3 linked regions of the Homo sapiens genome follow. The protein of the gene in region 2 interacts with the protein of the main gene of each other region in a biochemical or structural test. Each region holds a gene or a part of one and is shown on either strand. Other genes may lie near its edges.

What was found. The genes of interacting proteins can lie anywhere in the genome.
Region 1: of the proteins of PFKFB1 (region 2) and PASK, one has a biochemical effect on the other in vitro, tested with the Homo sapiens proteins (one study listed by IntAct).
Region 3: the proteins of PFKFB1 (region 2) and GCK form a complex in vitro, tested with the Homo sapiens proteins (one study listed by IntAct).

What each region holds. Positions count from the first base shown.
Region 1 is NC_000002.12:241,125,454-241,132,479, reverse strand, and holds part of PASK (PAS domain-containing serine/threonine-protein kinase), read left to right. Parts: intron 1-5,028; coding exon 5,029-6,284; intron 6,285-7,026. UniProt on the Homo sapiens protein: Serine/threonine-protein kinase involved in energy homeostasis and protein translation. Phosphorylates EEF1A1, GYS1, PDX1 and RPS6.
Region 2 is NC_000023.11:54,984,188-54,991,213, forward strand, and holds part of PFKFB1 (6-phosphofructo-2-kinase/fructose-2,6-bisphosphatase 1), read right to left. Parts: intron 6,534-7,026; exon of another isoform or gene 6,452-6,533; intron 1-6,451. UniProt on the Homo sapiens protein: Synthesis and degradation of fructose 2,6-bisphosphate.
Region 3 is NC_000007.14:44,186,421-44,193,530, reverse strand, and holds the start of GCK (hexokinase-4), read left to right. Parts: upstream 1-4,091; 5' UTR 4,092-4,577; coding exon 4,578-4,622; intron 4,623-7,110. UniProt on the Homo sapiens protein: Catalyzes the phosphorylation of hexose, such as D-glucose, D-fructose and D-mannose, to hexose 6-phosphate (D-glucose 6-phosphate, D-fructose 6-phosphate and D-mannose 6-phosphate, respectively).

The DNA.
Region 1 (7,026 bases), on a different chromosome or scaffold from region 2:
TCAGCTCATTGCTCATTGCATTGCAAGCTCCGCCTCCCGGGTTCACACCATTCTCCTGCCTCAGCCTCCCGAGTAGCTGGGGACTACAGGCGCCCGCCACCACGCCCGGTTACTTTTTTGTATTTTTTTTAGTTTCACCATGTTGGCCAGGATGGTCTCGATTTCCTGACTTTGTTATCCACCCGCCTTGGCCTCCCAAAGTGCTGGGATTAATTTTATCATTTTCAAAGTCATATGAAGCTGTTCTCTTTGCACATTTTAAAATATTCTATTTAGAGTAAAGAAAGTTTATATTAGAGAATTAGGAACATTTGGAAAAGTAGAAATAAAAACTTGTTCTATTCTCATAGTCGTATTGTACATAGCACGTGTGTGTGTATTTTTAACCCATTTTCTTCTTCGGAATCTTTTTTTTTTTTTTTTTTTTGAGATGGAGTCTCACTCAGCTGCCCAGGCTAGAGTGCAGTGGCGTGATCTTGGTTCACTGTAACTTCTGCCCCCTGGTTCAAGTGATTCTCCTGCCTCAGCCTCCTGAGTAGCTGAGACTACAGGCACCTGCCACCACGCCCGGCTAATTTTTGTATTTTTACTAGAGGCGGGGTTTCACTATGTTGGCCAGACTGGTCTCGATCCCTTGACCTCATGGTCCACCCGCCTTGGCCTCCCAAAGTCCTGGGATTACAGGTGTGAGCCACCATACCTGACCCAGAATCTTTTCTTATGCACAGCATGCAGTAAAGGTGCCCAAACTGTAGGTGCCCAGGTGGCCCAGGACCCTTTCTTGGCTGCCTGCAGACCCTGGGTCCCTTCCTGCACTGTGCCCCCTACACCCTGCTGCCCTGGGTCAGGGCAGAGGTTAGACTGCCTGCCGTTGAGCCTGACGCATGCATTTCCTTCTGTCTGCCTTCTGCTTATTGCTGTGTCTGTGATATTTATCCACATAGTTGTGTTTTCTAGTCTTGAAATTATTTAAAAAATATGTAATAGATACATATAAAGTATGTATGTATGTTTAAAAATATGTAATGCATGGGCCAGGCGCGGTGGATCACGCCTATAATCCCAGCACTTTGGGAGGCTGAAGTGGGTGGATCATGAGGTCGGCAGATGGAGACCATCCTGGCTAACACGGTGCAACCCCGTCTCTACTAAAAATACAAAAAATTAGCCAGGCATGGTGGCGGGCGCCTGTAGTCCCAGCTACTCGGGAGGCTGAGGCAGGAGAATGGTGTGAACCTGGGAGGCGGAGCTTGCAGTGAGCCTAGATCGCGCCACTGCACTCCAGCCTGGGCGACAGAGTGAGACTCCGTCTCAAAAAAAAAAAAAAAATGTAATACATGCATATGTGTTTTTTTAATTATAGAAGAATAATGGTAAAAGCAATAGTTCCCCTGGCCGTCTTCCAATCCCCCTCCTCCAATCCTACTCTTTCCCCCAGGGGACCGCAGTCAGCAGTTAGAGCCTTCCAGGCCTTCTTTCTTGTGCATTTAACTATAGTTGTATATTATACTTCTATGTGTGCATGTGCATATGTGTGCTCACATGTAACTGCTTCTGTTCCCTGAGCACGGCTGGGATTATACCATACACAGTGTCCTAAATGTGTGTGTATGTGTACGCACACACATGTCCTGCAGATCTTCCTCTACAGGCCTCCTCGGAACCGAAGCCTCCTGGATGGCACCCTAGCTCATGGGCCACTTTCCCACTGGCCGATGTGCCGGTGCTTTCTCTTGTTTGCTTAGCCTCCCTGATTTTCCCTTTGCCACTGTGGGTCCGCGTTGAGTGGCGTGAGAGGGTAGCTGTTGGCTCTATTTGCTCTACTTCCACTGCGAGTGGAACAGAGCAGGCGCTCAACACGTGAGTTTTCAATATTACTATGAATAATATTGCTGTGCGCACCTCTCCAGAGGTGCCACCAAGCTGAAGTGGGGCGGCCGTGGTTGAGGGCCCAAGTCTGACCCGTGGGTGCTCAACAGCACTAGCGGCCGGGCCCCCTTGCCAGTGCTCCCGTTGTCTGGGACATCTTGGTGGACAGAGGCCACGTGGCCCGTTGCTATCCTCAGGACCTTGGACACAACTCATCTTCCAGGACTTGGTGGTACCAAGGGAGTTGCCCAAGATCAGCCAATTCCTAGTCTTTCTATTGCATTGGACGTTTCTGGATGTCACAGTTCTGAGAGTTTGATTAGCATCCACTGCACAGCTAGTGCAGTTATGACTATAGAGATTTATCCATTCATTCCCCGCTCAGTCATTCACTCACTCGTTCGCTTATTCAACAAATAAGCATTACAGAAGACTTGGGGTGTGTCCCTAAGAATTGTAGTCTGGTCAGGACAATAAGCTGAAACAGTAAGACAGAACAGGGTTAGGAAGCATGAAGGAAGGAGGTGAGCTGTACGGAGTGCTTTTGTGTTTTAGGGACTACGTTGGGTGCTTCCTCGTAAGTTGTCTCCTTTAGTTCTCCTGGTAATCCTGGGAGTGTAGTCTGATTTTTAGCAAATGGATGCTGAAGCTGAGTGAATTGTTACACTGGGCATCAGGTCCTCGAAGAGACCCCAGGTGATGTGCTCAGACAGCAGGTGGGGGTCTCGGGTCTCCACGGGGGTCAGGTCCTGGTGCTTCCCCACTGGAGGACCTACGGTCCCTGGGGCTGCCCTGGGTTGAGGTCCCAGCAGCTCAAGGCCTGTGTGCAGTCGGCAGATCACATCCTTCATGCCCTGACTGCATGCTGGCCAGAACTGAGTGGCGTGGCGATGCCTGGCTGCCAGGGCAGCTGGAGGATGTCCTCATGTTTCCTGAGTTGCTGTCATGCTGAAAGTCAGAGATCCACAGTTTCACAATCTCTTAGCCAAAATTATGAAATCCAAAAAGCCCCCAACACTGAAATATTTTTCTTAGAATTGATGCTAAAAGCATTGGACGGTCAAATTGGCCCTAAGCACGTGAGAAGCTGTTTGTGGTTTTCCCTTGACCTCTGCAGTTTGAGTGTTCAGAGGCCTTGCTGCAGACACAGGGCAGTGGATGCCCGTGAAGCCCTCTCCCCAGCCTGCTGGGGTCTCCCTAGCAAGTGGTCATATGACTTTTCTGAAATCCCCAAACACATCTGGCCCAAGGGTTTTGATGGAAGGGCCGTGGACCCAGGTGACTGTGGAGAGAACGGGTACTGAGGCTGCAGCAGCCCGCTAAGGCCCCAAGAGCATGGGTGAAGATGCAGTGCTGCCCAGGGGCCTCAGCTTTGTGTCTGGACTGTGCCCCAGAAGTTGCCCAGACTCTTTGGCAAGGGGCTTTGTGAGACCCTCGTGGTGTGCATTCGCCTCCTGTCTTACCTGATCCTGCAGGAGGATGTGCAGTTTCCTAGCATTTGCATGGGGTTTGTCTCAAGCATGGGATGGATGGAGAGCGGGAGAGGGAGGTACAGGGGAGAGAGAGATGGGAGACATGGAGGGAGAGAGGCGGGAGACATGGAGGGAGAGAGGCAGGCAGACGCAGACCCTCAGCCTCCCCCTCAGTTCCCCTCAGAAAACTGCTTTTCCTCAGAACTTGGCTCACAATCCCTTTCTCTGTGGAACCCACCCTTGGGTTGTATCCTTCCTCTTCCGTCTTTTTTTTTTTGAGATGGTCTTGGCCATTGCCCAGGCTGGAGTGCAGTGGTGCGATCACAGCTCACTGCAGCCTAGACTCCTGTGCTCAAGCGAGGTTCCCGCTTCAGCCTCCCAAGTAGCTGAGACTACAGGTGTGTGTCACCACGCTGGCTAATTTTTAAATGTTTTGTAGAGACGAGGTCTCACTATGTTGCCCAGGCTGGTCTCGAACTCCTGGGCTCAGCCTCCCACAGTGCTGGGATTACAGGTGTGGGCCACTGTGCCCGATCCTGTCCTCTTTCTGAGCCTCTGGTATACCTTTATTAGGTTGCTGATGTTAACCTGTGTGTCTGTCCCCGAGTGAGGTGGTGCGGTCACATTCTGTGCATCTGGTGCCCAGTGTCAGTCTGTCATGTGGAGGCCAGTGGCTGGGCTGACAGGAGGCCTGGGTCCCTTGGCTCTGTGATCATCCTGTCTGGACTGTGGCAGCCTCCTCATGGGTCACCATGTGCTGAATGCTGGAGGACATTGTGTGCCACCTCTTAGGAGCCGCCCTCACCAGCCTCCTCTCTCTTTTTCGGCCCGTGTCCCCTTCTTTTTTTGTTTGTGTTTGAGACGGAGTCTCACTCTGTCACCCATCTCACCAGTGAGCTGGTACAATCTCAGCTCACTGCAACCTCTGCCTCCCAGGCTCAAACCATTCTCCTGCCTCAGCCTCCAAGTAGCTGGGATTATAGGTGCCTGCCACCTCACCGGGCTAATTTTTGTATTTTTAGTAGAGACAGGACTTTGCCATGTTGGCCAGTCTGGTCTCGAACCTCCTGACCTCAAGTGATCTGCCCACCTCGGCCTCCCAAAGTGCTGGGATTACAGGCGTGAGCCACCACGCCCGGCCCCCTGGCCCCTGGCCCCTTCTGTGTGGGCCCCATCTGAGAGCCATTTCCCAAATCTGAGAGCCATTTCCCTAGTCGGCTGTGAAATCGGATGGTGTTTGTAGTCAATCAGTTGTTTTTTTACTGTTGTGGAGTTTACCAGGGACTCTCCAATCTCTCTCTCGTTTCCTCTCACACCTCCTCAAGGCAGCAGCACGGACTTCCCCTTGCAGGTGGGGCCGAGGCTAGGCTGCACGGCTGACGGGGGGTTTGGGGGCCCTGAGATGAAGCGAGAGCGCTGACCAAAGCATTGGCAAGTTCTCCTGTACTTTACTGTTGGGCTTTTGGTAGCATTCTCTGCAAAATCATTTCTAAATGTGGACTTAATTTGGAGAAATTTGAGACTAAGTGCTTTATTTTTTAACTTGGTCACAAAATTTGGTCTTTTTCTTGTTATAAATTGGTGGCATTAAATGCTTTGTACTTAGTTCTAATGGAGAATCGGTGCAATCTCTCCTTTTGACTCATCTGTGGCCCTACATGATGGTCACCCATGTCATTATCCCCAGGGTGGACAATGTCCCAGAAGGAAGCCTGCCAGTGCACGGTGAACAGGCGCTGCCCAAGGACCAGCAAATCACTGCCTTGGGGAGAGAGGAACCTGTGGCAATAGAGAGCCCCGGACAGGATCTTCTGGGAGAAAGCAGGTCTGAACCAGTGGATGTGAAGCCATTTGCTTCCTGCGAAGATTCTGAAGCTCCAGTCCCAGCTGAGGATGGGGGCAGTGATGCTGGCATGTGTGGCCTGTGTCAGAAGGCCCAGCTAGAGCGGATGGGAGTCAGTGGTCCCAGCGGTTCAGACCTTTGGGCTGGGGCTGCCGTGGCCAAGCCCCAGGCCAAGGGTCAGCTGGCGGGGGGCAGCCTCCTGATGCACTGCCCTTGCTATGGGAGTGAATGGGGCTTGTGGTGGCGAAGCCAGGACTTGGCCCCCAGCCCCTCTGGGATGGCAGGCCTCTCGTTTGGGACACCTACTCTAGATGAGCCGTGGCTGGGAGTGGAAAACGACCGAGAAGAGCTGCAGACCTGCTTGATTAAGGAGCAGCTGTCCCAGTTGAGCCTTGCAGGAGCCCTGGATGTCCCCCACGCCGAACTCGTTCCGACAGAGTGCCAGGCTGTCACCGCTCCTGTGTCGTCCTGCGATCTGGGAGGCAGAGACCTGTGCGGTGGCTGCACGGGCAGCTCCTCAGCCTGCTATGCCTTGGCCACGGACCTCCCTGGGGGCCTGGAAGCAGTGGAGGCCCAGGAGGTTGATGTGAATTCGTTTTCCTGGAACCTCAAGGAACTCTTTTTCAGTGACCAGACAGACCAAACGTCATCAAATTGTTCCTGTGCTACGTCTGAACTCAGAGAGACACCCTCTTCCTTGGCAGTGGGCTCCGATCCAGATGTAGGCAGTCTCCAGGAACAGGGGTCGTGTGTCCTGGATGACAGGGAGCTGTTACTACTGACCGGCACCTGTGTTGACCTTGGCCAAGGCCGACGGTTCCGGGAGAGCTGTGTGGGACATGATCCAACAGAACCGCTTGAGGTTTGTTTGGTGTCCTCTGAGCATTATGCAGCAAGCGACAGAGAAAGCCCAGGACACGTTCCTTCCACGTTGGATGCTGGCCCTGAGGACACGTGCCCATCAGCAGAGGAGCCAAGGCTGAACGTCCAGGTCACCTCCACGCCCGTGATCGTGATGCGCGGGGCTGCTGGCCTGCAGCGGGAGATCCAGGAGGGTGCCTACTCCGGGAGCTGCTACCATCGAGATGGCTTACGGCTGAGTATGTCCCGGGCCCCATAGGAAGAAGTGTGGTGCTCCCAGAGCACAGTGCAGTGGGGGTGCAGGGCCTTCCTTGTTCTGGGGTCTGATGGGGTTTCACCCTGGAATAGTGTTAGCAGAAATCATGTTTTCAAGGAGAATGCATATCATCCACCCCTAGAAAATTAAGATTACGAATGTGTGTGCCTGGGGAGGGTGGCGCCCAAGGTCCCAGGCCACCTGCCCCATGCCCGTCAGTTCCAGCTGTGCCCCCTGACTCAGGCCATACACTTAGAGAGCCGCTCCTCCCAGCAGCCTGGGGAGATCCCGTCGGGAGCAGGAGAAGCGTGGGGGTGTCACGCTAGAGTCTGTCTCTCCACCTCCCACCAGCCCCCACCTCAGTGGTCACACAGACAGGCCGAGAGGGATGTGAGCGTGGTGAGATGCTCACGTGTTCTTCTTCCGTGCTTTTGGTGTTTAGGCTGCCCTGATCTCTGAAAAACCTGCCCTTCTGTGAGGGTCATGTGATCGGGCCCCTCTGCTTGCCCCTTTGAGATTGATTCTGTTTTACTTTCTTTTTTATTTTCATTTCTTTTTTTTTTTTTTTTCTTTTTTTTTGAGACAGAGTCTCTCTCTGTTGCCCAGGCTGGAGTGCAGTAGCGCGATCTCAGCTTACTGCAAGCTCCGCCTCCCGGGTTCATGCCATTCTCCTGCCTCAGCCTCCCTAGTAGCTGGGACTACAGGCACCCACCAGCACGCCCGGC
Region 2 (7,026 bases):
TTCTAACCACTGCAATAAGGCAATAAAAGGAAATAAAAGGCATACGGTTTGGAAAATAATTTTTAAAAAATCCCTATTTGCAAATGTCATGATTGTCTACATAGAAATATCCCCCTAAACTACAGAAATTCCTCGAACTAACAAGTGAGTTCATCAAGGCTGCAAGATACAAGATCAACACACAAAGACAATCTTGAGACTTTCATTTCTGGCATGACAGCATGAGGAGCTCTAAAGACCCATTCTCTAATAAAACAAGCTCAGCTGGCAAAATTACAACACAACAACCTTTTAAAATCTCTGGAAATTGTCTTAATGGAATACAGTACATGAAGATATTTTTATTCAAGAAAATCTACTGAAATGTGGTAAGAACACAGTCTTTGATACATGTGCCATGCTACTGTTCCCGACCTTACTACTGTCCCCTCACTACTGGCTCCAAGCTTAGCTTGATAGAAGCTCCACTTAAGGTGTGTATAGCCAAGATGAAGCTCCCTTTCGTCTTGGAGAGAATGTCCCATCAATACTTTGGCATCTTACTGGAAGGAGCAGAGAGCTAGCATTTAGCATTCCCTTCAGCTCAGAATTGCAGAGGCTAAATTCCTGGCAAGTGTGGTTAAGAGGTTGGAGGATCCCTTCCTCCTCCCAGTTTTTACTCATAGAATGGAGGCTATATACCAGGTGCAATAGGCTAAGAATACTGAGGTCCTGATTACCCTCATTCCATCTTGCTCACAGGGTAGGTTCCACACCAGGATAGGCAAACTAAGACCAGAAGCTGCTGTCTCGCCCAGCACCCAGAACAGTGCTCAGACAGTATACCCATGGAGAGAAGAAATTCATAAGATGAGAGAGCTCTGAAACTCTCCCCCCAAAACTAACTTTATTTTTAACATAGTACAAAGAAGCTCAAGCCCAAGGATGTTCTCAAAAACTACAAGTTCACTTAACTAACAGCAACATAGGCCAGCTTGTTCATCAGAGAGAACAAGAGAGAGAGGGACAGGTAAGAAGAGCCCTTCTGGGGTATGAAGAAACCTCCAAGACTTACTTCACAAACTACTCCTGCTAGAGTTTAATTAGATAAGGCTGCTGGGCAATGCATGCTTCAGGACACTGCCAAACAAACAAACAAACAAAAAACAAAAACAAAATACAGCATTCAGCTAGTAATTAGTGGAGCCTAGAGTGTAATACCCCCATGTGGGCTGACAGCTTAATAGAGAGACTGGGAAAAAGTCAAAGAAAGCCCAAATTACCTGCAAGCCAAAAACTATGCACTCCAAGAAGCAACACTGAAGGGTTCACACTGCAGGGAAACATACTTTAAAAATAGCCTAGCCAAGTCACAAAGCAAAGAGTTATATAGAAATAAGGAAATGATACCAGAAGGTAATTCAAACCCACAGGAACAAATGAAAATAATAGAAAATAATAAATACATACATGTTCTCCTTAATTTTCTCAGCTTCCTTAAAACATAAAATTATATAAAATAATACTTATAATGATGTATTATTTAGTTTTTAGCATATACAGATATAATATATATATTATAATAGCTCAAAAAGGAAGGTGAAAGAGAGCTATATATGAGTAAAATTTTTATATCTCATTGAAATTAAATTAGTACAAATCTGAAGCACACTGATGTATGATGTATGTGAAAAGCCCTAGAACAACCACGAAGAATATACCTAAAAAATATATAATAAAAAATGATCAAATGAATTAAAAAGTTAAACTAGAATAATTCATTTAATGCAAAAGAAAGCAGTAAAGGAAGAATAGAGAGAAAAAGACATGAGCTCTATGGAAAAATAAAACTGCATATTTAAACCAACTATATCAATAATGATTTTAAATCAGAACAGATTAATCAACCCAATCAAAAGGTAGAGAATATCTAACTGAATACAAACAAACAAGATCCAACTGCATGCTGCCTACAGAAGATAGGTTTTAGACTGAAAGATACAAGGCAGGCCTGGTGGCTCACGCCTATAATCCGAGCACTTTGGGAAACCAAGGTGGGAGGATCCCTTGAGTCCAGAAGTTTGAGACCAGCCTGGGCAACATAGTGAGACTCCATCTCTATTCTAAAAAAGAAAGAAGAAAAAAGAGAAAGAAGCAAATAGATTAAAAGTAAAATAACGTAAGTAATACATCATGCAAACAACAACCACAAGAAATTTGGAGTGACCATACTAATATGAGACAAAATGGATGTTCAAAAACATTACTAGAGATATATAGGGACATTCAATAATGACAAAAGGGTCAATCCATAATGAATATATCACAAGTATAAACGTATATGCCTAAACAACAGAGCTGCCAAATACATGAAGCAAAACTGGCAGAATTGAAGGGAGAAATAGACAATCCACTGACAATAGTTGGAAACTTCAAGACCACTCTTTCAATAATGGATAGAACAACTACATAGAAGATCAACAACAGGGAAATAGAGGACTTCAACACAAAGTAGTAATAACAAACATCTGTAAAACACTCCATCTCCAAACAGCAGACTATACATTTTTCCAAAGTGTACATCAAACATGCTCCAAGAGAGACAATATTCTAGGCCATAAAAGAAGCTTCAATAAATTTGGAAGAATGGAAATCATATAAAGTATGTTCTCCAATCATAATGGAGTAAAATAAAAAATTAATAACAGAGAGAACTTTGGGAAATTCACAAATATGGGAACCTAAAGGAAACAGAAGAAGGATATAATAAGGATTAGAGGTGAAAATAATAAAACAGAGACTAGGAAAACATTAGAAAAAAATCAACAAAATCAAAAGTTGGTTATTTGAAAAAATTAATAAACTTGACAAACCTTTAGTGAGACTGACCAAGAAAAAAAAGAGAAAACTCAAATTAATAAATTCAGGAAAAAAAGAGGAGACATTACTACTGACTTTATGAAAATAAAAAGAATTATAAGGGAATATTATGAACAATCATAAACTGTATGCCAACACAATAAATGCCTTAGGTGAAATAGATAAATTATTAGAATGATACAAACTCTCAAAACTGACTAAAAAAGAAATGAAATCTAAATAGATCTATAACAAGGGGTTGAATAAGTAATGAAAAACCTTGCCAGAAAGAAAAGTCCAGGATTAGATGGTTTCACTGGTGAATTCTACAAACATTTAAAGAATAATACGATTCTTCAAAAGCTCTTTCAAAAAGTAGAAGAGGAAGAAGCACTTCCCAACTCATTCTATGAGGCCAGTATTTCCGTGCTACCAAAGTTAGGCACATATATTAGAAGAAAAGAAAATTATAGACCAATAGCTGTTGTGAATATGGATGTAAAAATCCCCACAAAACACTAGCAAACTGAACCCAGGAATGTATAAAAGGATTTATATGTATACATTATATATATGTATATATTATACTTATACTTTTTACATCACAATCAAGTTAGATTTATTATAGGAATGCAAGCTTGATTTAACCTTTGAAAATCAATTAATGCAACAGATCACATCAATAGAATTAAGGACAAAAAAACCAAATGATCATCATAATAGGCACAGATAAAGCATTTGGGAAATTAAATACCCCTTCATGATAAAACCAACAACAAATTAAAACTAGAAGGAAAGGCCCTAAACCTAATAAAAGACACCAATGAAAAACCCACAGTGAATATCACACTTAATGGTGAAAGATTGAATAGTTTCTCCCATGCCGCCTGCCAAGATCAGTAACAACAGAAGGATGTCTGTTTTCATCTCATCTTTTCAACATTCTAGTAGAGGTTATAGCCAAGGTAATTAGGTAAGAAAAAGAAAATAAAAGGCATCTGGATTGGAAAGGAAGAGATGAAATTATTTCTATTTGCAGATAACATAATCTTGTATATAGAAAATCCCAAGGAATGCACTAAAAAACACCATTGGACCTAATAAATGAGTCCAGCAATGTTGCAGAATATAAGATCAATATATAAAAATCAATTACATTTCTATAAAGTAGCCATGAGCAAACAAAATGAAATTAAGTAAAACAATTTTATTTACAATAGCATCAAAACAATAAAATGCTTAAAAGAACACTTTAAAAAATGTAAAACACTCTGAAAACTGCAAAACATTGGTGAATATAATTAAAGACCTAAGTAAATGCAACAACATCTCATGTTCAGGGACCTAAAACTTATTATTGTTAAGATGGTAATATTCCCTAACTAATCTATAGATTAAATGCAGCTTCTGTCAAAGTTTCAGCTTAATTCTTTGCAGAAATTAATAAATTGGTCTTAAAATTTATATGGAAATGCAAAGGACCTAGAATAGCCAAAACAATCATAAAAACAATCTGAAAAAGACCAAAATTAGAAGACATACTTCCCAATTTCAAAATTACAATTAAACTACAATAATCAAGAATGTGTGGTACTGGTATAAGGGTAGAGATACATATAAACAAATGGAATAGAACTGAGAGCCCAGAAGTAAACCCTTCAACTTATAGTCACCTGATTTTCATCAAGGGTGCCAAGACAATTAAGTAGGGGAAAGAAGAGTCTTTTCAAAAAATGCTGCTAGGACAACTGGATAGCCACATGCAAAAGAACGAAGCTGGATTCCCATCTCACACCACATGCAAATATTAACTCAGAATAAATTGAAAAACCTAAATGTAAGAGCCAAGACTATAAAACTCTTAGAAAAAAGCCTAGGCATATATCTTTGTGACTTTGCATGCTACAACATGGATTAACCTTGAAAACATGCCCAAAGAAACGAGCCAGATACAAAAGGCCACATATTGTATGATTCCCCTTATATAAAATGTCCAGAATAGGCAAATTCATTGAGACTGAAAGTAGATTAGTGGTTGCCAGGGGCTAAGGGGAGAGGGTCATCTGGAGTGAGTCTAGAGTATGGAATTCCTTTTTGGCATAAAGAAAATGTCCTGGAATTAGTGGTGATGGTTACACAACTATGTGAATATACTCAAAACCACTGTATACTTCAAAATGGTGAATTTTATGGTATGTGAATTATATCTCTATCAAAAACAATTTTTTAAATGTAGGAAAACACATACCAGGCAAATATTAAGCTAAATAAAGCTAATGTAGGTATATTAATATGAGAAAAAAGATTGATTATAGGGCAAAAACATCAATGATACCAAATTACCAGGTATTACCAGAGTTAATAATTTCCTTACATGGTGATAAAATATTCAATTCACAAGGAAGATATAGCAATTCTAAATTTGTTTGTAACTACGAACTTTCAAGATTGACAGAATTACAAGGAAACATTAACAAATTTTCCATATCAACAGGCAGCCAAAACCCCAGAAGAATATAGAACATTTGAGCCAGATTAACAAACACAACTTAATCGAGGTATATAGTACACTAAACACAACTGTAAAACGCACATTCTTTTCAAGTGCTCTTGGAACATTTACCAGATTGTCCATAAGTTGGTCCATAAAGCAAGTCTCAACAGATTTCAAAGAACTGAAATAATACAAAGTTTGTTCTCTGACCAGAATGGAATTAAAATAGAAATGACAAGAGCACTGATCTATCAAAACAGAAGCTGGTCCAAGGGCTGGCACCAAGTACTGGAGGCCTCCTGCTGTGGTAGGCATTAATCCTTTAGTTGCTAGATGATAATCAGTAGGTCCTGGCTATCCTGGGAAAGGAATTGAGGTGGCCAGGGTAACTGGGTAAGTGTTGGAGAGACTAAAAAAGCCTGGGAGAGTGCCTATTTATAAAATGGACTAGAAATATTCTGAAAATTCATATGGCCATACGATTGTGAATCTGTGGAATATCAGCCCTGTTTAGTAGGCCAATTATCTCATTGGACACTTAAATTAGAAAAGAAGAAAGTCTGAAAATGAATGAGCTGAGCAGCAGGCAACTCTATGAGTTAAAAAAGAACAACAGAATAAATCCAAAGAAAGTAGGAGAAACAGAATAATGATGAAAAAATAGTTAAATAGAAAATAAAGATAAAAAAGGATCAAAAAGTCAAAAGTTGATTATTTTAGAATTATAAAAGTGTCAAACTTATAGCAAGATTGATCAAGAGAAAAAAGGTGCAAATAAATAATATTATAATGAAAGAGAAGCTATAACTACAAATGCAACAGAGATAAAAAAGATACAAAGATAAGAACTTTACACAAAATAAATTTGAAAACTATGTGAAGTAGAAAAATTCATAGAAAACCATAACTTAGGAAAGCTTAAGAAAGCTAACTTTAGTGGAAATAGCAAACTGAAAGGACTCTATAACTGATAAAAGAGATTGTATCAGTTAAAATGTTAAAGGAGACACCAGGTCCAGATATTTTACCTGGAAATGCTGCCAGGTAAAATATTTGAGGAATGGCTAGTTCTGCAGACAACCTCTGTCAGAGGACAGAATGAAAGGAAATAGTTCCCACCTGATTTTATGAGGTTAGTGTAATCTTGACACTCTTGGAAAAATCACAGGCCAATCTCTTTCCTGAGCAAAATGCTAAAATCCTAAACAAAAAATTAGTGAAAGAAATTCAGAAGTTTTTATTTATCCCAGGACTGCAAGATTATTTCAACACAAGAAAAACTCTAATGTATTGTACCACATTAATGGGTTAAAATAGAAAATTAATGTCATTTCAGTGAATACAGAAAACATGTTTAATAAAATTCAATATTCATTCATCTTTTAAAAATTGTATTGGCAAACTCAGAATAAACAGGAACGTCTTTAACCTATTAAATGATATCTACCAAAAAAACTACAGCAAATTTGCTCAATGGTGAAACTTAAAATCGGGATCAGCATAAGAATATACATTATTAACATTTCTTTTCAACGTGTACTGCACATCTCGTGTGTGTATATTAAAGGCGGGAGGTCTTAGCAGTGTAATAATATAAGAAAGATAAAAATGAGGGTTGTGGGGAAAATGAAAGCTGTCATTTACATACAAATTATCAAAACTCATAAGAAAGTTTAGCAGGTTTGCTAGTTACA
Region 3 (7,110 bases), on a different chromosome or scaffold from region 2:
GCAAAGCCCAGGACTTTCTTCGACTCTTAAGAAAAGAGAAGCAAAGTAACTGGCACAGATTGGAGAGGATCAAGGAACCCCGAGCTGGATACATACAAACTTTGGGTTAACATGGATGATTAAATACATATGTTTATGTGAACCACCTCCCAAATATGCTCCACTATAATGACACAAGACAAAGGGCAGGGGGAGACCAATTGCAAGGTGGCGCAAATGAGAGATGCTACCAAGGGTGGCGGGGGAGAGAGGGGAGCAGTTGTCAAGTTAGGAGGCAACAGGCTGAGGGACAGGGACCAGCAGACGGGGAGGGAGGGGCTGAAGCAGAAGTGTCCAGTGTCTGGAGGGATGGGGCCAGAAAGGCAAGGGGCATCCTGAAGAAGCTATACCTGGGGAGGGCAGCTCTCTCCCCACCTGCTCCCCAATTCATCAGCCAGGAATGCCCCATCCACCCCACCCCAGGGAGGAGGACAGAGGACTTTCGTTTGGGAGCATTGAATGGTTCAGAGATTCTGCAACTCTGCGGTCCCCAACTAAACTGCTCATTGTTTCAAGCAGTCCCTGTTGGGTAAATGTCCCCCATTGTAACCGGACTCGGATTCCACCGCTTGAAAGCCAAATACAAGAGGAGAGGTTTGGTGGGAGGAAAAGTGGTTTTAACTAGAGCCAGCAAACCAAGAAGATGGTGAATTGTTGTTTTAAAGCATTCAATTATCTCAAATTTTAAAATTTATCATAGGATTCTGAAAGGAAAACTTGGTATGGGACATACGTGGGAGCAGTGCAGGGTACAGGGTCTATGTGTCTTGATCCAATGGCTGTCTTGAGTATCACCTATCCTGAGGTCTGGTTGGTGTTATCTTTCCTTCGGCCAGATGGTGGTGGGTGAATTGTTTCGACTCCCCCTAAGTTGGAGGATTCCGCAGGGGTTCCGTGTCTGGTTTTTGTTTCAAGATTAGCCCCTGGAATTCCCAAATAAGCATAGAGTTAGATAAGCGGGCATGGTGCAAAGGAGTGTCTAGTGGGAAAGGGAGAGAAGCAGAGTTTCAAAGTACATTTCAAGGTTACATTTTAAGACTAAAGAAAAAGCCTTAAAATGCATTTTTAAAGCTGATTTAATGCTTGGCTACACTAGGCTGTGGCCAGTGTGCAGTGTGGCTGCTCTTGGATCAGGTGATGTTTCATCAGCTGTGTCCAGGGAGGGCAGGGCCATGTGGCAGAACCTGGGACCTCTGTGTGAGGGACTACCTTGGCCCCTGTCCTTAGCAGGAAGCTATGGTAAGGAACCCTTAGGGAGACATTAAATTGGGGAGACCGTCCCTGCCAATCCTTTAACCTCCCCAGCCTCAGCGACCTCAGTTGGAAAGTGGTGGTAATAATACTACCACTGACCAGGTGTGGTGGCCAGACATTCCACACTTTGGCTTCAGCCGCTCCCTCCCCACTCTACTGTAATCCCAGCACTTTGGGAGGAAGAGGTAGGCGGAACCTGAGGTCTGGAGTTGAGACCAGCCTGGTCAACATGGTGAAACCCCATATCTACTAAAAAGAAAGTACAAAAAATTAGCCAGGTGCAGTGGCACACGTGTGTGGTCCCAGCTACTCGTGGGTCTGAGGCATGAAAATTGTTTGAGCCTGGGAGGCAGAGGTTCCATTGAGTGGAGATCGAGCCACTGCACTCCAGCCTGGGTGATAGAACGAGATTCTGTCTCAAAAAAATAAAAATAAAATAATAATAATAATACCACTGCCTGCCACACTAAGATTGTCTGATTAGATGACAGAATGAATGCAAAAGTACTTTGTGAATCATAAATGTTTTCATCAATATTAGTTATAATGACAATTGCTCCTTCTCCTAATAAATGTATTGCCTTTCTTTAGGAATAAATATAACAAGAAATGTGTAAGATATATATGAGAAAAATAATAAAATTCACCTGAAGGACATAAAAGAAGACCAAAATAAATGAAACAACACATACTTCTAGATGAGAAAACTCAATATTATAAAGAGGTTAGTTCTCTAAAATGAATCCCTAAACCCACAAAGTCAATGTATTTCCAATGAAATTGTCAACAGCATTATTTTCCGAAGTGGGATGAGTAGTGCTAAGATTTATAAGAAAGCCAACATTCCAGAGCAGTGGGGAAGGGATTGCTTCACCACCAAATAGCCATATTAGAGATTCCCTTGCACCATACCCAAACCACCATCTCCCAGGACCCGGGAGAGCAGAAAAGAGGAATGAGAAGAAAGGCGAGGATGTGAGGTGTGCCCTCATAATGGCGGTGCACGCAGCACAAGCAATTGCAGAAAGACTAAAGTACTGAACAAATAGAAAACTTGGAAAAATATTAGAAGGAAATGTGGGAGAACATTTTTGCAATTTGGGGATTGGAAACGGTTTTCTTAACAAGATATAAAAACCCCAAAACAAGAAAACAAAGGTTGAAATTCATAAAAACTAGATACTTCTGTATGATGAAAGACACGATTAATCAAGTTGTTAAGTTTAGCAATAGACTAGGGGAGATATCATAGTATATTTAACAGACAAAGGATTAATAGATACTACAGATGAAATATAAAATAGTTTCTCCAAGTCCATAGGCAGAAGATAATCCAATAGCAACATAGTTAAGTAATGTAAACAAATCATCCTTAGAAGAAGAAATGCAATCACCAAGAAACACATGAAAAGGTGTCCAGCATTTTGCAATTCAAGCAACAATGAGGTGACAGATCGGCAAAAAACTCATAAAGATTTATCATCTGAAGGATTGGCCAAGATAAAGCCAAACTTCTCGTGTTGGCAGAAGAAACTGGTGAAGCCATGTGAAGAGGCCACGTGGTCCTGCCTACCAAGATGTAAAATGTGTACAGCATTTGAACTAGCAATTCAGCCTCCAGGAGCCATCCAGAAGAAACACTGACACACACTTAGACTCCGGTGAAATTCAAGGACTTCTGCCACAGCCTGCTTCGTAATAGTGAAAATCTGAAACTGCCTCAATGACCGTCAATAGGAAGTTGATTTTAAAGTGTTACAGCACATCTGTCTGGAGAGATCGCACTGGCCACTCCTCCTCACCCCCTCTGCTGGACCTCTGAGCGTAGGTGGCCTGGAGCTGGGTCCTGAGCCCTCTTTGGTCTATACCGACACTACCCAATATGGTAGCCACCAGTCACGCTGGACACTTGAAAAGTGGCCGATCCTGACTGAGAAGGGCCACGAGTGGGAAAAACACACCAGACCTCAGTGACTTAGGCAGAAGTATGTTTTGTTCCAGACTATTGACTGAGCCCGCAGCTGAGTTGGCTCCAGCACCCTGGCCCCCTGCTCCATCCACTCACTGGGACTCCCCACTGCACAGGGCAACCTCTCCAGGGGCACTTGGGCTGCGAAGGGGAGAGTGGGTGGCATCCCAGGCTGAAGCTTCCTGAGCAGGGCCAGAGGAGGAGCCAGTCCCTGTGGGCCTCTGTTCTGACAGTGTCAACCTCAGCCAGGCTTGTGTGGGCCAGGTGTACTGTTCTGGTTCAGATTTCAAGGAGATAGTCAGGGCAGGCCGCGCCAAAGCCCTCCGATGGGCTCCCCTACTGCCTGGCAGACCTGTCCAGCTTTGGACTCTGGCCCTGCGACCTGGAAGTCAGGCTGCCAAGAGGTCCAGGCAGTGGCCTCCACTGTGGAGGGTCTCTGGAGAGTTTACAGCCCTAGATAGGGGGGTTAGGGATGTGAGATGGTCCCAGGGGCCTGCTCCTGAGCCACGCCAAGCTGCCTGCTCCCTTTCCTCTGCTTCCAGACTCACGGGATCCTCTGCTCATCAGAACAGGAGTGTGGGAGACCCTGAGACACTGCCCCAGGATCTGAACAGGTGGCAAAGGCTTAACAGGCTAGCGGTCACTGTAGTGACAAGGCGATTGAGTGGTCACCATGGTGATGGGGATGGAGGCTCTTTGCCACCAGTCCCAGTTTTATGCATGGCAGCTCTAATGACAGGATGGTCAGCCCTGCTGAGGCCACTCCTGGTCACCATGACAACCACAGGCCCTCTCAGGAGCACAGTAAGCCCTGGCAGGAGAATCCCCCACTCCACACCTGGCTGGAGCAGGAAATGCCGAGCGGCGCCTGAGCCCCAGGGAAGCAGGCTAGGATGTGAGAGACACAGTCACCTGCAGCCTAATTACTCAAAAGCTGTCCCCAGGTCACAGAAGGGAGAGGACATTTCCCACTGAATCTGTCTGAAGGACACTAAGCCCCACAGCTCAACACAACCAGGAGAGAAAGCGCTGAGGACGCCACCCAAGCGCCCAGCAATGGCCCTGCCTGGAGAACATCCAGGCTCAGTGAGGAAGGGTCCAGAAGGGAATGCTTGCCGACTCGTTGGAGAACAATGAAAAGGAGGAAACTGTGACTGAACCTCAAACCCCAAACCAGCCCGAGGAGAACCACATTCTCCCAGGGACCCAGGGCGGGCCGTGACCCCTGCGGCGGAGAAGCCTTGGATATTTCCACTTCAGAAGCCTACTGGGGAAGGCTGAGGGGTCCCAGCTCCCCACGCTGGCTGCTGTGCAGATGCTGGACGACAGAGCCAGGATGGAGGCCGCCAAGAAGGAGAAGGTATCTCGCCCTCCATTGGGCATTCTGGGAGTGTTTGCTTGCCTGTCCCCAACATTCCATGGTTTGTTTGAGCCTCAGAATCTGATTTTATGCACAGGCTCTTTGAGAAGGGTCTTGCCAGGGGTGCCTTCTGGGGCAGGAAGGCCCCTACTGCCTGGCAGACCCATCCAGCTTTGGACTCTGGTCCTGCGACCCGGAAGTCAGGCTGCCAAGAGGTCCAGGCAGTGGCCTCCACTGGGGAGGGGCTCTGGAGAGTTTAGAGCCCTAGATGTGGGGGTTAGGGACATGAGGTCTTGTGGACAAAGCCCACTACCTGATTTTGAGACAACACTCACTAGACATGGTGACAAGTCAAAGATGCCTTGCCTCCTACCAGGAATCACTTCGCAGGGAGCCCGAGGGCTGCTGTGGCCTGCTGAGGAGTGCAGGGCAGTTACTTTTTCCAAAAACAAAGAGAAATCCAGGCATGCTCTGAGCCAGCCCTGAGCCCAGCAGTGAGCAAGGAGAGAGCTGGAGACAGGGGACTTTGCTGTGAAACACTGGGGGGAATGTGCCTGCATCACCCCAGCTGGGGGCCCAGGCAGAGTGGGGGAGAAGGGGTAAGTGGGCAGAGCCAGTCACTTTGGGCATGCTTCCCTCTCGCCTCTGTGTGAAATGACCAGGTCAGCATAAACCCCGGGCTGGCTGTGCTTCTGGCAGAGCTAATGATGTTAGGAGGAAAACAACCAACCCAAGTGAGAGGGTGCGCAGCCAGACAGCTGGACCGGCCGAGGCCCCAACCAAGTCCCAGATCTGCCTGTCACTGGTGCTATGGCAGCAATTTGGATGAGAAATCCTGCCCAAAGGGCCCCTTCAGGCCACCCGGGGAGAAGGAAGCGGCTGTCTTTGGCATGACCAGAAAGATGGCTCGGAGCTAGGGAGAGGTGGACATGTGGGCTGTGGAGATCTGGCACTTTCCCCAAACAAGGAGAGAAAGCATAGTGTGCCTATGTGTGAATGTGCTATGTGTGCATGTTTGTGCCTGTGCATACCTGCATGTGTACATGCATGTGCACATATGTGTGCACAGGGAATCACTTTAATAAAGGCCACAGCAGAGCTGTCCCTGAGCCCCTTGCATTCACAGTGGCATGTGAGTGAACCACCTTCTTAGGCTGGGCATCCAGTCTCAGACTCTGGGGCTGCCCATGCCCCATCCTTTATCTGCTCCACGTGTGAGGGGTTGCTGGTCCTGACCAGGGCCAGCTGTGAACCCCAGAATCCTGGGAAGTCACTGACATTCTTGTCAGGGCCAAGAGTGGAGCAAGGCAATGCCTCGGGCACAAACTTTAAGGGGTCACCAGAAACATCAATCATCAAGATATATGCTATTTTAAATAATCAAAATGAATGCAAAAAAAATTTATGATGGACAACATACCAAATTCTAAACAAAGGCAGGATGAGTATCACTGGCTTCTGCACTTTTCTCCACCCAGTCTACCCCTCTTCTAGTGCCTGGATCGCAGGGTGCCAAGGCCTGGATGAGGGAAGCGTGGAGCTGCAATGGCCACTCCTGTCTGCCTGTTCTGGCTGCACAGAGGACTCAGTCCTTGTCTTGGGGGAACCTATCTTGGTTTTAGGGTCATCCTAAGGATCTGATGTTTTCCAAGTGAGCTGGCTGTCCAGGCCCACCCAGGTTCAGTCCAGTCCTGTGTCTCTGGGAAGTGCTGCCCCTACCCCAAGCCAGTGTTTGACCTTGGAGCAATGAGCAATGCCCTCCTTCCACTTTCAAAGTTGTCCCCAAGACGTCAGCTGTGGTTGTCTCTGTGCAGACACCGAGGAGGAACTGTCTTCTTTCTCCTTTTGGTTGCTTTGGAGGAAAGTAAAGTGTTGCTGGTTTCCCTCTTTCTACTTCTTTGATTGAGAGCAGCCGTCTTGCCGGTACCAACCTTCCAGATCTTACCTGTGGTTGCAGGAGCCTGTGGCCTCAGTCCTGTGCCCAGTGACTTCTCCATGTGGATGTCAGCTCCTTAGGGGCAAGCCTGATTCCACTGACACTACTCCCACCCCTCATAAGCCCCTTCTTACCAGCTGCAGTTGCCTGGTACCCCACCATCGCTGACTCATTCCTTTGGCATCAAGGTTCATCCCTTACTGGGCCACCACTTCTGGGTGGCCTGAAATAGGGCCCTGGGCATCCCTCTTGGGGACCTTTTGGTCTATATTTTCACTCTCACCTCACTAAGGACAGATGAGTAAATCTGGTTAACTTTGCCTGATAGATTTGGTGACCTTTTTTCAGGAAGGAGCCTGGAAAGATGAGATTCAGGTGTATTGGTCAGCTTAGACTGCCATAAGAGAATACCATCCACTGATGGCTTAGAAACAACAGAAATCTATTTCTCACTATTCTAGAGGCTGGACGTCCAAGATCAGATGCCAGCATGGTCAGGTTGCAGGGAGGGCTCTCTTCCTGACTTGCAGACCGCCACCTTCTTGCTGTGTC